Regions from separate parts of the Homo sapiens genome. Here region 2 is linked to region 1. Evidence: fine-mapped expression QTL. A gene starts in region 1. The other region holds a variant in brackets. All regions are shown on one strand. Distances are from middle to middle.

What was found. PIP is the estimated chance that this variant, and not a neighbour inherited with it, causes the effect.
Region 2: its variant is fine-mapped to the expression of KRT18 in esophagus mucosa (GTEx, PIP 0.98).

Annotation. Positions count from the first base shown.
Region 1 is chr12:52,946,014-52,951,384 of GRCh38, reverse strand. It overlaps KRT18 (keratin 18), which reads right to left and starts at 2,267. Exons shown (of 7, transcript NM_000224.3): 1 at 1,795-2,267; 2 at 975-1,057; 3 at 479-635. The coding sequence starts at 2,211. It also overlaps a transcript of KRT8 not described here. RefSeq lists silencers at 1,224-1,238, 1,342-1,360, 1,584-1,607, 2,269-2,318, 2,359-2,438 and 3 more, enhancers at 1,395-1,494, 1,096-1,750, 662-1,861, 1,685-2,278, 2,279-2,872 and 2 more, promoters at 2,238-2,299, 2,509-2,591, 2,669-2,679, 2,600-2,679 and a cis regulatory region at 2,509-2,591.
Region 2 is chr12:52,991,992-52,997,362 of GRCh38, reverse strand. No RefSeq gene overlaps it. Among named protein-coding and RNA genes, the nearest start is that of EIF4B, 12 kb to the left of the region's middle. The variant G/A (reference allele first, on the strand shown) is at 2,799.

The DNA of each region.
Region 1 (5,371 bases):
GAGAAGAGACAGGAGGAACCCCTTGGCTTGCACTCAGGGCAATGCCAGTTCTGGCCTTTCTACTCCAGTGGGTAGAAATGCCACCCACTCACTGATGGTTTCTCTGTAACTTCACCCTGTTCCTTTATCCACCCTCCCCTTCACAAACCTGCTCCTTCTACCATCTTTTAGGAAGCGCTGCCAACTCCATCTGCTGTCATTCCTTTATCACCCCCAGCTCCTAGTGTTAGCTGCTTCTACTTCTGTTCTCATCTCATTTTCTAACCCATATCATTTTGACCTGTAATTCAGGTGAGCCAGGGTGTACTCGACCCCCTGAGAATGCTCTTCATCAGAACGGTCTTATTTAAGAAGAGCCCAGGCTGCTATTTCTAAACGTCTTAGCAAGGCTACTTGCAGTTGGTTTGTCTTGTCTATTCTCCGACCCAGACTTCTCTTGGCCCCTCAATCCCTGGCCTGGCCAGTGGCCCCTGCTTGCCTCTTCGTGGTTCTTCTTCATGAAGAGCAGCTCCTCCTTGAGAGCCTCGATCTCTGTCTCCAGCTGCAGTCGTGTGATATTGGTGTCATCAATGACCTTGCGGAGCCCATGGATGTCGTTCTCCACAGACTGGCGCATGGCCAGCTCTGTCTCATACCTATAGGAGTGGAGGTGATCAGAGGGGCCCCTATCTCTGATCCAGAACCTTCTCAACTCATGCCACCTACTAAGAGAAGTTCTGTGCCCATTGCAAACCAGCAACTTGAGTCAGCAATTAGGTGGTAATCCCCTGAGCACCATTCTTGGCACTTGGAGGACAGTATTCTTAAACGGGGTTATACAAATGAACAGTTAAATGAATACACTGATGGACCCTGACTCTCATCCACCCACACCTAACAGGATCCCACTGTGAGCCCCTAACTGACCCAGCCTGGGGAGCAGATCCTTCTTAGCTCCACCCCTGGACCCCCAGCTCTCTAGCCCCCAAACTTACTTGACTCTAAAGTCATCAGCAGCAAGACGGGCATTGTCAATCTGCAGAACGATGCGGGCATTGTCCACAGTATTTGCGAAGATCTGGAGGGATTGTAGAGAGAGGTTGTTCCATGAATAGAAAGCCAGGGATGGGTGGGGTGAGTGTGTAAAAAGTGTTATGTATCCTAGTGAAAACTTCCTGGTCCCAGGAATAGCCAGAGGCTCTCCCTGGACACCTATCCCTTTTCATCTAGCCCCACCCCATTCCCTCCTTTCCTGGATTCCCAGATCCCAGCACTCTGCCCCTCTTGGGAAGCCTCAGCAGGCTGGCTAGCTGGCTGGCCTGCCTGCCCAGAAGTGAGTCGCTACTAACAAGTCCTCTTCCTGGCCCTCTCCTGGCATTTTTTCCCTAGTGCACCTGGTCACTCTGGGCCCCCTACACCCTGGATTGGCTCCTCCCAAAGGAAGGCCTCTTGTTTACTCCTAGATGACTCAGCCTTAGCCACATCCGCTTAACCCTCCAATAGTCCCCATTCCGCCAGAGCCAGTGTCTCCTCCTCTTTACAGGCCTTTCCTTACCTCCCTCCATGCTGTCCACTTCCTCTGTAAAGCTCTCAACCCTGTCCCCTTCCCCCTCTCTCCTGGGAAAGAGCCCTCCCATGCCTAGCTGCTGCTCTTAGGGACCCTGTGGCTAGGTGCGCGGATGGAAATCCAGGTATGCCCAACCCCCTCCCGGTGGAGTAGGGGTTGGGTGGTTATGGAATGACGGAAAGAGGCAAAGGAGTGTATAATTGGAGGGTCAGACAAGGCTGGGAGTTGAGGTCCCTCCTACCCCTTACCTGAGCCCTCAGGTCCTCGATGATCTTGAAGTAATGGCTCCAGTCTCTGACCTGGGGTCCCTTCTTCTCCAAGTGCTCCCGGATTTTGCTCTCCAGCCTCCGGTTCTCGGTCTCCAGGCTCCTCACTCTGTCCAGGTAAGAGGCCAGGCGGTCGTTCAGGCTTTGCATGGTCTCCTTCTCGTTCTGGATGCCTCCCATTCCTGCCAGACCCCCGGCTATCCCGGTGGCCAGGCCCCCGGACCCCATGCCGCCCCTGAAGCTGGTGGAGCGGGACACGGAGATCCGGGAACCAGAGCCCCCAGCGCCTGCATAGACGCTGGCCGCGCTGCTGACCGGCCGGGCGCCGTAGCTGGGCGCCTGGACAGAGCCCAGGGACCGGTAGTTGGTGGAGAAGGTGGAGCGAGTGGTGAAGCTCATGCTGTCCGGGGAGAGAGAAAGGACAGGACTCAGGCTTTGCGGACGACGGTGGCGGCCTGCGCGAGCCGCGCGACCCGAGTTATATCGCAGAGTGAGGCCCCGCCCCCGCCCCGGAGCCGCTTCGGAAGCCGGAGCCACAGGTGGACGGCTCGGAGCCCGCGCCCTCCGCCCCGGGCCGCTCCGCCCCGGGCCCCACCCCCGCGCCCTCCGCGCAGCCCTGCCAAGCCCCGCTCACCCCCCAGAAACGGGGTGGCCAACCGGGCATGGACACGGACAGCAGGTGTTGTTGGCCCTCGAGGCTGCTTTCAGGGCAGGAAATGACGTTATTATGCTCTTCTCCCCCAGGTGGAGGAGGTGCTGGCGAGTTTGAAATTTGGGAGTCTTGACCGGGCGCAGTGGCTCACGCCTGTAATCTCAGCACTTTGGGAGGCCTAGGTGGGCGGATCACGAGGTCAGGAGATCGAGACCATCCTAGCCAACATGGTGAAACCCCCTCTCTACTAAAATACAAAAAATTAGCCGGACGTGATGGTGCACGCCTGTAGTCTCAGCTACTTGGGAGGCTGAGGAAGGGGAATCGCTTGAACCTGGGAGGCGGAGGTTGCAGTGAGCCGAGATCGCGCCACTGCAGCCTGGCGACAGAGTGAGACTCTGTCTCAAAAAAAAAAAAAAAAAAAAAGAAAAAAGAAATTTGGGGGTCTGGTGGTGTGCGGGTGGAATGGCCTGTGAGTCCCTCTAGCTGTCCTTAACCTGCAGCCCAAATTATCCACTTGTGGAGGGGATCTTGGGGGCATCCTGGAGCCCCAGGAGTCCCGGGGAAGAAAGGCTGGGAGCTGGAGAAGAGGAGGAGAAGCAATGCCCAGCCTCATAGCTGCTTGCTTACACACTCACACCCCAGCTGCACCTGGCTCCCAAACACTCCTCGCCTGCCCACGTTTCCTCACACACACTCACACCCGAATCATACAGAGGTGTGCTCTCAAATGCACACACACATACATTCACTCAGCAAATAGGTGCAGACTCCCCAAAACAAACCCAGTCTCTGAGCCCCCTCCACCACCCTCCCCTCTCCCGACCTCACTCCCAAGGGCCTTGCCTCAGTGGAACACTGTGATTTGGACAGGGAATGCATCCTGACTTCTGCACACCGGTATATCACCTTTCCTGCATCCTTAATTAAACAAATCCTGAGCATTTACAATTCAACCAGTATGCATTCAGCACCTACTGTGAGCCAGGCCCAGTTCTAGGAGCTGGGAGAGAAGGGCGGTGACAAAAGAGACCAAAAATCTCTCACAGAGATGATAATGTGTCCCACATCGCCGGGCACAGTGGCTCATGCCTGTAATCCAAGCACTTTGGGAGGCCGAGGCGGGTGGATCACTTGAGGTCAAGAGTTCGATGCCACTGCACTCCAGCCTAGACAACAGAGCAAGACTCTGTCTCAAAAAAAAAAAAAAAAAAAAAAAATTTGAGACCAGCCTGACCAACATGGTGACACCCCTTCTCTACTAAAAATACAAAAATTAACCAGGCACAGTGTGTGCCTGTAATCCCAGCTACTCAGGAGGCTGAGGCAGGAGAATCGCTTGAACCCAGGAGGCAGAGGTTGCAGTGAGCCAAGATCGTGCCGTCGCGCTCCAGCCTGGGCAACCAGAGCGAAACTCTGACTCAAAATAAATAAATAAATAAATAAATAAAAGTAATGTGTCCTACATCGCATGGGGCCTGAGAGGACAGGCAGGCACTCCTAGGACCATCATAGCAGCGACCCAGCCCTGGTGGCCAGTGCCCCTCCCCTCTTTTCTAGGACTTTTCTCCAAGCCAGTCCTTCCCCTGTCCCCCCTTGTAAGGGCTGTCTGGATTAGAAGCCTGGCCCCAGGGGACTGCATCCTCCAAGATGCTCTCCCCAGCCTCTGTGTGAGAAGGATGGAGGTAGGGAGGCTTTCATGCTGCCTGCCCCCTGAAGCTGAATGACCATCCCTGCTGAATGAAGTGTTGGGGGGAACCCTTAGGTGTTTGGCCTTCAAGTTTGTCAGCTCCAGCAGCTCGTTTTTCTGGCAGGGCCTGGTATGACACATTTGGCTGTGTTCTTTGCTCTGGAGTGGACCTATTGATTCTTATCGAGCTACCAGCTGAGGGGGAAGGGGAGGACAAATAGTAGGGCAGACCTGGGAGAGAAGGGACCCTGGAAAAGCCTGGCCAGTGGACCTGCCAGGTGGGAGGCAGAGCACAGATAAAGAGCCTGAGCCTGGATTGTTCCTGATCTGTCACCTAATGGTGGGGAGAGCCCCACAGTGCTCAATGGGAGCCAGCCAGGGGGCAGTCAGGGTGGAAGCTGGCCAGGGGAGGGTCGGGGCCTGCTGAAGGCTGGGAGGCAAACGGGATGCAAAATAACATACAAATGAATGCCCACTGGTTTTGCATACAAGGCTTCTGGGAGGTAAGAGGTTCCAGTCAGAGGGGTCTCTCCTGCTTTCACCTTTATATTCCCCCACTGGATTCCAGAACTGTCAAGTTGGGCAGTATTTTATAATAAAGTATGTGGAGTCAACAAGCTACGTACTGCCTTTTACTGTTATTGCTAAGCTTTAAGTCAGCCAGCCTGGATACTTTGCTAGCTGTGTAACCTTGGGGAAGTCACCTAACTCTGAACTTCAATTTCTTCACTTGTACAGGGAAAACAGTAAGACCTGTCCAGTCTATTTCCTCAGGTGGCAGTGAATGTGAGTGTAAATTGTCACTCACTCATTCATCAAACAAATACTAATTATTTGTACTGGAGCCTTCCTTCAAAGTAAGGAAGGCTTCAATATATACAGGAGGGCAGATAAAGGGGGTCAATTTAATTCGAAAGACGGGCTCAAGGGGTTTGAAGTCTGTCTCTCTGAGTCATTTAAAAACCCTGGGGCACTTTGAAATCTACCAGCAATCAAAACAGATTCTAGAATTTTTCTCCAAGCTAATTCCCAGGTCCTTGTCTGATTCCTGCCCCACCCCAACTGCTAGGAAACTTCTGGGACCTGTGGAGGTGCAGCGTGGGGGCTGGAGAGGGAGAGCTGCCAGCTAGACTTTATCTCTCCTACTGATGTCGATGGCCACATTCCTGACTTCTTGCAGCATGGGGCAAATACCGACCTCGGGCTTCCAGCACCAG
Region 2 (5,371 bases), 46 kb before region 1:
GAGCATACTAAAAACAGCTTGTGTATTTTATTTTTATTTTTATTTATTTATTTTTGAGATGAAGTTTCACTCTTGTTGCCCAGGCTGGAGTGCAATGGTGCGATCTTGACTCACTGCAACCTCCACCTTCTGGGTTCAAGCGATTCTTCTGCCTCAGCCTCCTGAGTAGCTGGGATTACAGGCATGGGCTACCACGCCTAGCTAACTTGTATTTTTAGTAGAGACGGGGTTTCACCATGTTGGCCAGGCTGGTCTCGAACTCCTGATCTCAGGTGATCTACCCACCTCAGCCTCCCAAAGTGCTGGGATTACAGGTGTGAGCCACCACACCTGGCCAATTGTATACTTTCAATGGGTGGATTGTTTGGTATGTTAACTGTATCTCAAAGCTGTTTTTAAAAAAACGTAGGCAAAATAAACACATATTCAGATACAAGAAAACTAAGAATTCATTGCCAATAGACTGTATTTAAGCCAGCTGGGCAAGGTGGCTCACGCCTGTAATCCTACCACTTTCGGAGGCTGAGTTGGGCAGACTGTCTGAGCTCAGGAGTTTGAGACCAGCCTGGGCAACAGGCAACCCCGTCCCTACTGAAAATACAAAAAATTAGCTGAGTGTGGTGGTGCACACCTGTAGTCCCAGCTACTCAGGAGGCTGAGGCACGAGAATCCCTTGAACCTGGGAGGCAGAGGTTGCAGTGAGCCAAGATCACGCCACTGCACTCAAGCCTGGGCAACAGAATGAGACTCGTCTCAAAAAAATAAAAGATAAGAAAGAACTGTATTACAGCCAAACTAAAGGAAGTTCTTCAAACTAAGGGGAAATGATACCAGAGGGAAATGCATATATTTAGGAAGGAATAAAGAGTATTTATATAGTAGGTTACCAGGTAAGTGTAAAAGGCATATTTTCGTCTTAATTTCTTTTTCAAAATTATTTTTATTTATGATTTATTTATTAAAAATACTACAGGCCGGGCACGGTGGCTCACGCCTGTAATCTCAACACTTTAGGAGGCCAAGGCGGATGGATCACCCGAGGTCAGGAGTTCAAAACCAGCCTGACCAACATGGAGAAACCCCATCTCTACTAAAAATACAAAGTTAGCCGGGTGTAGTGGCAGACGCCCTTAATCCCATCTACTCAGGAGGCTGAGACAGGAGGATTGCTTTGAACCCAGGAGGCGGAAGTTGCAGTGAGCCAAGATCACGCCATTGCACTCCAGCCTGGGCAACAGGAGTGAAACTCTGTCTCAAAAACAAACAAACAAAAAAAACCAAAAAAACCCCAAAACCCTATAATACGCATATTTGCTTTTCTGTGGGCCTTTTTTTTTTTTTTGTTTTGAGTTGTAAGCTCATTCTGTCATCCAGGCTGGAGTGCAGTGGCACGATCTTGGCTCACCACAACCTCCATTTCCCAGGTTCAAGCGATTCTCCTGCCTCAGCCTCCTGAGTAGCTGGGATTACAGGCACACACACCACGACGCCCAGATTATTTTTAGTAGAGATGGGGTTTCACCGTGTTGGCCAGGCTGGTCACGAACTCCTGACCTCGAGTGATCAAGCCTCGGCTTCCCAAAGTGCTGGGATTACAGGTGTGAGCCATTGCGCTTGGCCCTGTGTTTTTTTAAGAGACAAGGTCTTATTCTGTCACCCAGGCTGGAGTGCAGTGGCCTTAAATCTCTGTGCTCAAGCAATCCTCCTACCTCAGCCCCCCAGGCAGCTGGGACTACAGGTGTGTGCCACCACACTCAGCTTATTTTTATTTTTTATATGTTTTTGGTAGAGACTGGGATTTCACTATGTTGCCCAGGGTGGTCTCGAACTCCTGGCCTCAAGCAGTTCTCTTGTCTCGGCCTCCCAAAGTGTTGGGATTACAGAGGCATAAACCACCATGCCCTGCCCCTCTTAATTTATTTGAAATACACTTGACTGCCAAAAGCAAATATTAGAACATGGTCTTGGGGAATTATAATGTATTTAAATGTAATACATACAACTATAGCTAAAACATAGTGGGAACTGGGCCAGGCGTGGTGGCTCATGCCTATAATCCCAACACTTTGGAAGGCCGAGGCAGGATGATCCCTTGAGCCCAGGTATTGGAGACCAGCCATGGGCAACATGGTGAAATCCTATTTCTACAAAAAAAAAAAAAAAAAAAAAAAAAATAGCTGGGCGTGGTGGTGTGTGCCCATAGTCCCAGCTACTCAGGAAGCTGAGGTGGGTGGGTCACTTGAGCCCGGGAGTTCGAGATTGCACTGAGCTGTGATTGCCACTGCACTCCAACCTGGGTGACAGGAAGACCCTGTCTCAAAAACAAACAAACAAACAAACAAATAAATGAATGAAAAGAAGGCTGGGCGTGGTGGCTCACACCTGTAATCCCAGCACTTTGGGAGGCCAAGGTGGGCGGATCATGAGGTTAGGAGTTCGAGACTAGCCTGACCAACATAGCGAAACCCCGTCTCTGCTGAAAAAATACAAAAATTATCCGGGCATGGTGGCGGGCACCTGTAATCCCAGTTACTCAGGAGGCTGAGGCAGGAGAATTGCTTGAACCCAGCAGGTGGAGGTTGCAGTGAGCCGAGATTCCTCCACTGCACTCCAGCCTGGGTGACAGAGTAAGACTCCATCTCAAAAAAAAAAAAAAAAAAAAGTTAAAAAATAAATAAATTAAAAAGAAGACCGGGTGCAGTGGCTCATGCCTGTAATCCCAGCACTTTGAGAGGCCAAGGTGGGCGGATCATGAGGTTAGGAGTTCAAGCCCATCCTGGCCAATATGGTGAAACCCC[G/A]TCTTTACTAAAAAATACAAAAATTAGCCAGGCATGGTGATGCTCGCCTGTAGTCCCAGCTACTCAGGAGGCTGAGGCTGGAGAATCTCTTGAACCCGGGAGGTGGAGGTTGCAGTGAGCCGAGATTGCACCACTGCACACCAGCCTGGGCGACAGAGCAAGACTCCATCTCAAATAAATAAATAAATAAATAAATAAATAAATAAATAAATAAGGCCGGGTGCGGTGGCTCACGCCTGTAATCCCAGCACTTTGGGAGGCTAAGGCGGGCGGATCACGAGGTCAGGAGATCGAGACCATCCTGGCTAACACGGTGAAACCCCGTCTCTACTAAAAATACAAAAAATTGGCTGGGTGTGGTGGTGGGCACCTGTAGTCCCAGCTACTCGGGAGGCTGAGGCAGGAGACTGGTGTGAACCCGGGAGTTGGAGCTTGCAGTGAGCCGAGATCACGCCACTGCACTCCAGCCTGGGCGACAGAGTGAGATTCCGTCTCAAACAAACAAACAAACAAACAAACAAACACTTTTCAGGAAAATCACATAAATTGGTCTTCCTGAACATTTTACATGGGAACTGGTACTATCCAGAGCCTACTGTGCAGGTTTTTGCTCCAGTTCAGTCTTTAGGAGCTATGCAGAGCAAGAGTAAAGAGAAGAAATGCAATATAGGGGGAAGGAAAGTAGGTAGAATTCAGAATAGCCTTTTTGACTCTAAGGAATTTGAAATATGCAAAGGTTGTAACACAAGAACATTTTGAATCTTCATCTGTGGAGAAGCAGCAGGCACCCCCTCAGCAGTGTGACCAGGAGATATGAAAGATATAGCCAGGTCACCTCCCAGGGGTAGGTTCTGTCACTTACAGACAGAACCTTGGCATGAAACACTGGGCTAGTGTAGGGTTCTGTTGTGATGGCTGCTCCCTGGTGGCATTCCACAAGGTTCTCTCCTCAGCACTCCTCTCTTTTTGTACCAAAGGCTGCAAATGCCAGTGTCTCCAGGAGCCAGGTAGATGATGTGAATGATTTAAGCAGCCTGGCAAGCATGTGGCAAACTGCAGAGCACATGTTCCATGTGGCAGAAACATTTACTGCTCACCCAATATCCATGAGCTGCCCCACGTTTCTCAGGCCCCTGATGAGGGTCCTGGGACTAGTTTCAGCAAATGGACGGTTAGTTCAAGTACCATTTCACTTTGTGTTGGAAGCATGTAAGTGCCACAAAGCAGCCCTTCAGCTCCGGCTCCCTGAAGGGATCATCCAGAGCGTAAATTGGAATAGCAGAGTCATGAGATATGTGCAGCCTGGATCCCTGAGTCATTGCAAGGAAGAAAGCTACCCTGGAGAGTTGCCTGATTCACCCTGGACTTTGCTCGAACAAGAAACAAATCTTCATTGTGTTAAGTTGCTGATATTTTGTCATTGTCGCCTAGCCTACTCTATGTACTTTCTTTAAAGGTGACAGTCACAACTCAACCCTGACTCTCATTGTCAACTGAAATAGGGCCCAACGTTACCAGATCTTCCAGTTTTTCAAGATAAACTAGATATATGGATTTTTTTTTGGTGAAATAGTCCAACATTTAAAAGTGGATAGTTAATTCAAAAAATCACAACCCTGTGTAGCCCAAATAAAGCACACCTGGGGCCAATTTAGCCCATGGGCCACCAGTTGCAACTTGTGCCCTGCCCTGTTTTCCTTAGTGACTTATCAATTCCCAAAGCTTCTGTTGTCACTCCTGTTCAGATGGGGGCAAAGACCCTATCTTTGTGTCAAAGCTCCTGGTGAGCTCAGTGAATGCCTTCAACCTTTCAACCATGTATTTCTAGCTTTAGCTTAAATGCTGGAGTGTAGCCCCAGCATGTTCTTTTTTTTTTTTTTTTTTGAGACAGAGTCTCACTCTATCCCTCACGCTGGAGTGCAGTGGCGTGATCTCGGCCCACTGCAACCTCCACCTCCTGGGTTCAAGTGATTCTCAAACCTCAGCTTCCCCCAAGCAGCTGGCATTACATGTGCCCACCACCATGCCCGGCTAATTTTTGTATTTTTAGTAGAGACAGACAGGGTTTTGCCATGTTGACCAGGCTGGTCTCAAACTGCTGACCTCAGGTGATCTGCCCACCTCAGCCTCCCAAAGTGCAGGGATTACAGGCATGAGCCACCGTGCCCAGCCTCAGAATGTTCTTTAAGCTGTCAGTCCTACCTGTCCCCCAACAGCATAAGTACACACTGTTAGGGGCCTAATGGCTCCTTCTTTCCTTTTTCTTTCTTTCTTTCTTTTTTTTTTTTTGAGATGGAGTCTTGCTGTGTCGCCAGGCTAGAGTGCAGTGGCACGATCTCAGCTCACTGCAATCTCTGCCTCCCGGGTTCAAGTGATTCTCCTGCCTCAGCCTCCCAAGTAGCTGGGATTACAGGTGCCTGCCAGTATGCCCAGGTAATTTTTGTATTTTTAGTAGAGATGGAGTTTCACCTTGTCGGCCAGGATGGTCTTGATCTCTTGACCTCGTGATCTGCCTGCCTCGGCCTCCCAAAGTGCTGGGATTACAGGTGTGAGCCACCGCGCCTGGCCTTTTC